Homo sapiens: one gene and its partner. The protein of the gene in region 1 interacts with the protein of each later gene in a pairwise test. Each region holds a gene or a part of one and is shown in the gene's direction. Other genes may lie near its edges.

Region 1 (3,809 bases):
CATGCTCGGACTGTTGTAAACCAAGTTCTGTGATACGTCAATTCCTGGTGTTGTCCTATTTGAATATCCTAAATTTCCCATAAGAGTTGTTATGAATGTAACATGTAAATTTACTATCACTGATGATTCCTCTGAAGAATTTCATGCAACCACCAGAAGGTGCAAGATCCTAGAGATCTACATATCTTAGGCATTTTCCAGGAGTACTCCTTCAACTGTCGCCCTGCACCTGATTAAGCTGGATATACTATAGTAAAACAATATGTAACAGATCCATGCACTACATGGTGTTATTGTGGAAATGGCCCTGACACATGGCCACTCACTTGACAGCTGTACAAAAGACAGTTATGTTTTTGCCTAGAGGACGCTAAGGTTAAAATTGTCTTTATTGCTCATCTTCCCCACTGATACTGAGCACACCTGGCATAGCTGAGATTAAACTATGAGTATGTATACTTGAATCTGGCATTTAATCCTCACAAAACGAATAGTGACTACACAGTCAAGCATCTTTAATGGGCAAGTACTTGAGCATCCAACCCATGTAAAGTTTGACGATCTGCACCTCTCCTGTCCTTCCCCTTAGAGAGTGAGTACAAGTTTCTAGATGACAGGTTCGGTGTAGACTGTTCAGATGCATCTGGCCAAGTTGTCATGATTTCTCATTGAGGGAAGAGAGATACGACACAGCAGTACATTGTGGATATGTTGAACCCATTAATTGATAGTGCAGCCATCACTGAGAAGCAACATTCAGTCTTTTCTTGCAGATCTTTACTGTACAACCCCTTACTGATATGACCCCATTTGTTGAGCTGTTGTGGATGAAAAGAACTTAATTGGGTTAGTAAACTGGAGAACTGTTTTGTTTTGGTGTTGCAAACCCATTTGGGTAGAATTTGTTCCATGGGTCAACAACTCTGTATCCCCTGGCCATGTATAAGAACATCACAATTATGTATTACCAGCCATATATCCGAATACTATATGCTACTTCTCCTGAAGTCGGCAGCAGATTGTATATCCTAATAAACACATCTGTGGGAAGCTATCTTAGGACAACAAGATCTTCATTATACCCCAAGAAGATCTCCAGACCTAGGGTGATTAAAACATTAACTGCAGACATTAAAGACATTGATATTATTAATGATATGCACACTCATGTCCACTTAACTGACCCTCTTGCATTGGCAGTGGGCCCATTAGTAGATGTAGAGGCTATTAAACATGAGATCATTGGGCATGCAGATTCAGTCTCCTCCTTTCACTCCTTTGGTGCAGGATTTATCACTTCTCTGTCCCTGTGGAACATTGTGAAAGATATGTATCTACATCTGTCACACTTAGACGGAACTTTGTTTCTCCTATCTTTTGTTGTAACTGCCATAGGAAAATTATACATGTACTACAGGACAGTAGAACAACTTTGCCTATATTCTCAGCTAATTAAATAAAAAAGCTGGTTTTTATGTGTTGATTTTGTACCCTGCATCATTGCTGACACTAAAAAATGCTTAGGGTATTTGCAACTAATCATTATTAGTTCTAATGTTTTTGTGGCATCTTTAGGGTGTTCTCCATACAAGATCGTGTAACCTTGGAACAGAGATAATTTTAGTTTTGGTTTTTTTTTTTTCCCAATTTGTATGCCTTTTATTTCTTTTTCTTACCTAATTACTCAGGTAGGAATTCCAGGACTGTTAAATAGAAATGGCAAAAGAATGCCAGGTTTGGTGGCTCATGCCTGTAATCTCAGCACTTTGGGAGGCTGAGGCAGGCAGATCACGTGAGATCAGGAGTTTGAGACCAGCCCGGCCAAAATGGCGAAACCCTGTCTCTATTAAAAATACAAAAATTAGTCAGGCATCTTGGCGCCTGCCTGTAATCCCAGCTACTTGGGTAGCTGAGGCAGGAGAATTGCTTGACCCCGGGAGGCAGAGGTTGCAGTGAGCCAAGATCATGCCACTGAGCTGAGATCATGCCACTGCACTCAAGCCTGGGAGACAGAGCAAGACTCTGTCTCAAAAAAAGAAAGAAAAAGAGGCCAGGCGCGGTGGCTCACGCCTGTGATCCCAGCTCTTTAGGAGGCCGAGGTGGGTGGATCACGAGGTCAGGAGATCAAGACCATCCTGGCCAACATGGTGAAACCCCATGTCTACTAAAATTCAAAAAAAAAATTAGCCGGGTGTGGTGGTGCGTGCCTGTAGTCCCAGCTACTCAGGAGGCTAAGGCAGGGGAATCACTTGAACCCAGGAGGCAGAGGTTGCAGTGAGCCGAGATCGCCTGGCGACAGAGTGAGACTACATCTCAAAAAAAAAAAAACAAAAAAAGAAAAAAGAAATGGCAAAAGTGAACCATTTCTCTTAACACACAATCCTTATGGGATTGTTGATTTGGTATGCAAGTCCTTAATAGACACTGAAAACAACATTATTTTAGCCTGGTATATTATTAATGTTAACAGTAGTGAGGCCAGGCGTGGCGGCTTATGCCTGTAATCCCAGCACTTTGGGAGGCTGAGGCAGGCAGATCACTTGAGGCCAGGAGTTCAAGACCAGCCTGGGCAACATGGTAAAAGCCCAGCTCTACTAAAAATACAAAAATTAGCCAAGCGTGGTGGCATGCACATGTAATCCCAGCTACTTGGGAGGCTGAGGCACAGGAATTGCTTGAACCCAGGAGGCAGAGGCTGTAGTGAGTTGAGATTGTGTCACTGTGCTCCAGCCTGGGCGACAGAGTGAAACTCTCAAAAACAAAAACAAAAAACAAAATAGTAGTGAGTCATCAAGAAAAGTTAAATTATAGCCTACATAATACATTTTAAAAAGTTCTGCCAAAACACTTAAAGTTTTTAAAAAATTAATTTTGATACTTTAGGAAGAAACCCTCTGTTCCTTGGAATTGTTGGTTTAATAAAAGTCTTTTATCTTCAAGAAAATGAGATGGTAAACTCTGAGGTATGTGTTGTATTTTTGGCTTCTTGTGTGAGTTCCTGCAGACAAGGACAATAGACTGATAACTGGGTGGAAAGAAAAATAGGGCCAGCCAACTTCTGGCTAAAGTTTAATTATCTTAGGATCAAAAGTCTATACTTAACTTGTTTATCTTAGGATCCAAAAAAATCTGTATTTAATTTATCTGTTTTTATACTTTGTGCTTCCTTTCTTTTCCTGTATAATTCTTTTTAAAAAAAGAAAATGCACCCTTGTATTTAGTGTACTTAGGGAAAATGGACATTTATTTTTATCCACGCCCAGGCAAAAGAAAAAGAGCAAAGTTCTCCTAAAGGCAGCATAGATAGGATTTAGATGAACCCAAGGTAAAAAGCAAAAACTGCAGGGGAGAAAGTTGGGAACCTACTACTAGTCCCGTTCATCCTCAAGTTGTTTCTCTTCCAAAATGTTCTTTACTTGTTTTTTGAAAGTTGTTTATTTCTGTTTAAAGATACAGTCAAACTTTGTTAAAGTTGGCTGTATTCTATTTATTTAAAGTTATAGCCAAACAGAACAGCTTATTTTTCTAGAGTTCCGGATAGCTAGAGTTTTTCTATAAGACTAATGATTTCCTTTTAAACATCTCCCAAAGCCTAGTGATTCAGACGTTTCTGCCTTACTGTATTAGTCTGTTTTTATGCTGCTGATAAAGACATACCCAAGACTGGGCAATTTACAAAAGAAAGAGGTTTAAAGGACTTAAAGGCAAGGAGGAGCAAGTCACATCTTACATAGATGACAGGCAAAGAGAGAGAGAGAGCTTGTGCAGGGAAACCCCCTTATAAAACCATCAGATCTTGTGAGACTTAT
Region 2 (4,468 bases), on another chromosome or scaffold:
TTGATCACCATGGTGACCTAGTGTTTGTCAGTTTTCTTCAGGGTAAAGTCACATTACTTTTTTCCCTGTGTCATACTGTCATCTTGGGAAGGATAGGAAGACCCAGGACCAGCCAGTAGTCAGATGAGGCCTCTGAGGGAAAACTGCAGAAACCTCCTGCCCACAAAGAAGAGGATCCACAGAAACCAGCTCCCCACCTGTTGTCATCCCTGGGAGGCCCAGGGGCATGTTGACCCACAGTGCTGTCCCCTGACGTCTTAGCGTGTAGAAAGAGGAGAAGGCTGTGCTTAGGTGAGTCTCACTTCAGATCATGAGAGCGGAAGATCAGGAGGGGGGCCTTCTAGGCATCCCCAGGCTGATACAGAGGATGGACTGGTGAGCTACCCCACCACGGACACAGGAGGATCCCCAAAAACCTGCCCGTTTTCACTGCTAGGAGGCCTTGGGCAGGGCCATTAGGGAGAGACGCTAGCGTGCTCCAGTCCCTCTTGGGGGGTTCATGGAAATGGGAACCTTGATCTGAAAAACAGTCCCTGGAGAGAAGAGGGAGGGAGTGGAGGCCGTATCAGGAATAATAGGTTGAGGAAGACTGAGGGTCCCTCCCATGCCATTTCAGACGGAGGGCAGTGGAGCCCTACCTGGAGTCTGGGAGGCCATACCCCACTGTGGATGGATGTGATTCTACCTCTCTTGCACCTTGCAGGTCTCAAGGATGGGAGGGGCTTATTCGGAGGTGAAAGACTCAGATGCATAGAGGCAGGGAGCCCAGACAATGTCAGGAGTCCAGGAACAGCCTCTCAGGAAGGCAGGAAGGGAACACCCATGACTGGTAGTGCTGCCTGTCCTGTCCCTGTGCCTGCTGCCAGCCATGGAGGAGCCCATCAGGGTCCCCAGATTTACAAATTTCTGACTTCCATTTTGGGAGTCAGCCAGAGGGGAGATTTTCTCTGAGGAGGGCAGCTTCAGTTAAACAGAGGGAGTAGCCCCAGGGCTGGCCACTCAACAAGAAGAGAACTCTGTCGAAGGACAGTGACCTCCGAACACGGGGGAGGCACAGGCTGCACCCTGCCACTCCCTGCTGTCAGCCCTGGAAAAAGGTGGGGTGTGAGTGTCAAGGACTGGGGAGGTGGGAGGGAAGAGGTCAGCAGGGCTTAGGGAGTGAGCAGAAAGGTTTGGAGCACATCCTGGAGGTGGGAAGGAAGGGATGGAAAGGAGGCTGACAAGCGGGCGGCGGGGGGGGGGCGCCTTCCTCCTCTGAGAGGAGGCCCCGCCCCACGCTATCCGGGCTGTCAGCCCTGATCAACCCTGACAGAGTTCCCGGATGTGCTTTGCCGGATGTGCTTTCCCGGCGGCCATCTTGGGAGTCTGAAGGACCTGAGGCATTTTGTGACGAGGATCGTCTCAGGTCAGCGGAGGGAGGAGACTTATAGACCTATCCAGTCTTCAAGGTGAGGGCCCCGAGGGAGAAGTGAGGGACAACCCCACCACAGAGAGAAGCAGCCCTGGCCTGCCCTATCCCTGCGGTGGCACTTGTAGGTGGCGGAAACGAAGATGGTAGCCGAGGGCTGAGGGACGTGTCCTCACGGCAGAAGAAGGGAGGAAATGCCGGCCCTCTAGAGAATAAATAGGAAGGCATTGAGGAGGACCGGGGGAACCCCCACCTCAGAGGACAGATTCCCAGAGATTCCCACCCTGCTCCTCAAATCAGCCCCCATAGAGCTCCCCAGGTGGCTGAGGCTGAGCGGCCACCCTCTCACTGCTGGGTGAGGGGTGTAGGGGAGGGGGAGGAGGAGGCCTTGTTCTGGGGGTCCCATGGCAAGTCAGCATGGGGAGCTGCCTCCAGTTGGCAGAGGGAAGATTCCCAGGCCCTGCTGGGAACAAGAGTGAGGACTGAGGGGTCACATGTGCGTCAGAACAGACGTGAGGCCACAGGGACCGCCCCCGTGGTAGAGTGCTGGGAGGTGGCTGCCACCTCACTACCTCCCACTGCTCTCAGTGATGTGGAGTTTTCCTGAGGTTTTTCCTCAGGCCAGCAGAGTGGTGGGGGCCTGGCCCTGTCTGAGAAAATGTGACAATGCTAATTGAATTCTGAGGGGGTCACGAACCTCAGAATTGTGGGACTCTGGGAGTCTGGCCAGCCCCAGCTGCCGTCTTAGCTGGAGGGGCTCCCTCCCTTCCTCTTGCAGGTGCTCCAGAAAGCAGGAGTTGAAGACCTGGGTGTGAGGGACACATACATCCTAAAAGCACCACAGCAGAGGAGGCCCAGGCAGTGCCAGGAGTCAAGGTGAGTGCACGACCTGACTGTGTACCAAGGGCCCTACCCCCAGAAACAGGGCAGACCTGGCAGCACCCGGCCTGTAGCCACCCACTGTCATTCCTGGTGCCTCAGGCTCTGCCTGCCAGCTGTGCCCCGAGGTGCTTTCTCGCGTCCTTCTACAGGTTCCCAGAAGACAAACCCCCTAGGAAGACAGGCGACCTGTGAGGCCCTAGAGCACCACCTTAAGAGAAGAAGAGCTGTAAGCCGGCCTTTGTCAGAGCCATCATGGGTGAGTTTCTCAGCTGAGGCCACTGGCACTGTCCCTCTCTCCCTCAGTCCTGTGGGATCCCATCATACCTATTCGTGTTCACACGTTTACCTGCTGCTCCTGAACAATATTCATCATGCCTCTCTTTCTAAACCTTCCACGCCCCAGCTTTGAGCAAGGCTTCCAGAAGGCAATTTTCATACTGGAGTTGGTAGATGCAGAGGATCCCCCAGATGAGGAAGAGGAGGAAGCTTCCTCCATTTTCTCTTCCTCTTTCCACTTTTTATTCCCCTCGTCCTCCTCCTGTTTTTCTTTCTCATCCTCATCCTCCTCTCTGCTTCTGCGTTCTCCAGGGGACAAGGATATGCCTACTGCTGGGATGCCGAGTCTTCTCCAGAGTTCCTCTGAGAGTCCTCAGAGTTGTCCTGAGGGGGAGGACTCCCAGTCTCCTCTCCAGATTCCCCAGAGTTCTCCTGAGAGCGACGACACCCTGTATCCTCTCCAGAGTCCTCAGAGTCGTTCTGAGGGGGAGGACTCCTCGGATCCTCTCCAGAGACCTCCTGAGGGGAAGGACTCCCAGTCTCCTCTCCAGATTCCCCAGAGTTCTCCTGAGGGCGACGACACCCAGTCTCCTCTCCAGAATTCTCAGAGTTCTCCTGAGGGGAAGGACTCCCTGTCTCCTCTAGAGATTTCTCAGAGCCCTCCTGAGGGTGAGGATGTCCAGTCTCCTCTGCAGAATCCTGCGAGTTCCTTCTTCTCCTCTGCTTTATTGAGTATTTTCCAGAGTTCCCCTGAGAGTACTCAAAGTCCTTTTGAGGGTTTTCCCCAGTCTGTTCTCCAGATTCCTGTGAGCGCCGCCTCCTCCTCCACTTTAGTGAGTATTTTCCAGAGTTCCCCTGAGAGTACTCAAAGTCCTTTTGAGGGTTTTCCCCAGTCTCCACTCCAGATTCCTGTGAGCCGCTCCTTCTCCTCCACTTTATTGAGTATTTTCCAGAGTTCCCCTGAGAGAACTCAGAGTACTTTTGAGGGTTTTGCCCAGTCTCCTCTCCAGATTCCTGTGAGCCCCTCCTCCTCCTCCACTTTACTGAGTCTTTTCCAGAGTTTCTCTGAGAGAACTCAGAGTACTTTTGAGGGTTTTGCCCAGTCTTCTCTCCAGATTCCTGTGAGCCCCTCCTTCTCCTCCACTTTAGTGAGTCTTTTCCAGAGTTCCCCTGAGAGAACTCAGAGTACTTTTGAGGGTTTTCCCCAGTCTCCTCTCCAGATTCCTGTGAGCTCCTCCTCCTCCTCCACTTTATTGAGTCTTTTCCAGAGTTCCCCTGAGAGAACTCACAGTACTTTTGAGGGTTTTCCCCAGTCTCTTCTCCAGATTCCTATGACCTCCTCCTTCTCCTCTACTTTATTGAGTATTTTCCAGAGTTCTCCTGAGAGTGCTCAAAGTACTTTTGAGGGTTTTCCCCAGTCTCCTCTCCAGATTCCTGGGAGCCCCTCCTTCTCCTCCACTTTACTGAGTCTTTTCCAGAGTTCCCCTGAGAGAACTCACAGTACTTTTGAGGGTTTTCCCCAGTCTCCTCTCCAGATTCCTATGACCTCCTCCTTCTCCTCTACTTTATTGAGTATTTTACAGAGTTCTCCTGAGAGTGCTCAAAGTGCTTTTGAGGGTTTTCCCCAGTCTCCTCTCCAGATTCCTGTGAGCTCCTCTTTCTCCTACACTTTATTGAGTCTTTTCCAGAGTTCCCCTGAGAGAACTCACAGTACTTTTGAGGGTTTTCCCCAGTCTCCTCTCCAGATTCCTGTGAGCTCCTCCTCCTCCTCCTCCACTTTATTGAGTCTTTTCCAGAGTTCCCCTGAGTGTACTCAAAGTACTTTTGAGGGTTTTCCCCAGTCTCCTCTCCAGATTCCTCAGAGTCCTCCTGAAGGGGAGAATACCCATTCTCCTCTCCAGA

The links.
Region 2: the proteins of RUSC2 (region 1) and MAGEC1 interact in a two-hybrid assay, tested with the Homo sapiens proteins (one study listed by BioGRID and IntAct).

Annotation. Positions count from the first base shown.
Region 1 is NC_000009.12:35,496,529-35,500,337, forward strand, and holds part of RUSC2 (AP-4 complex accessory subunit RUSC2), read left to right. Parts: intron 1-3,809. UniProt on the Homo sapiens protein: Associates with the adapter-like complex 4 (AP-4) and may therefore play a role in vesicular trafficking of proteins at the trans-Golgi network.
Region 2 is NC_000023.11:141,902,531-141,906,998, forward strand, and holds the start of MAGEC1 (melanoma-associated antigen C1), read left to right. Parts: upstream 1-1,363; 5' UTR 1,364-1,448; intron 1,449-2,186; 5' UTR 2,187-2,284; intron 2,285-2,439; 5' UTR 2,440-2,542; coding exon 2,543-2,546; intron 2,547-2,878; coding exon 2,879-4,468.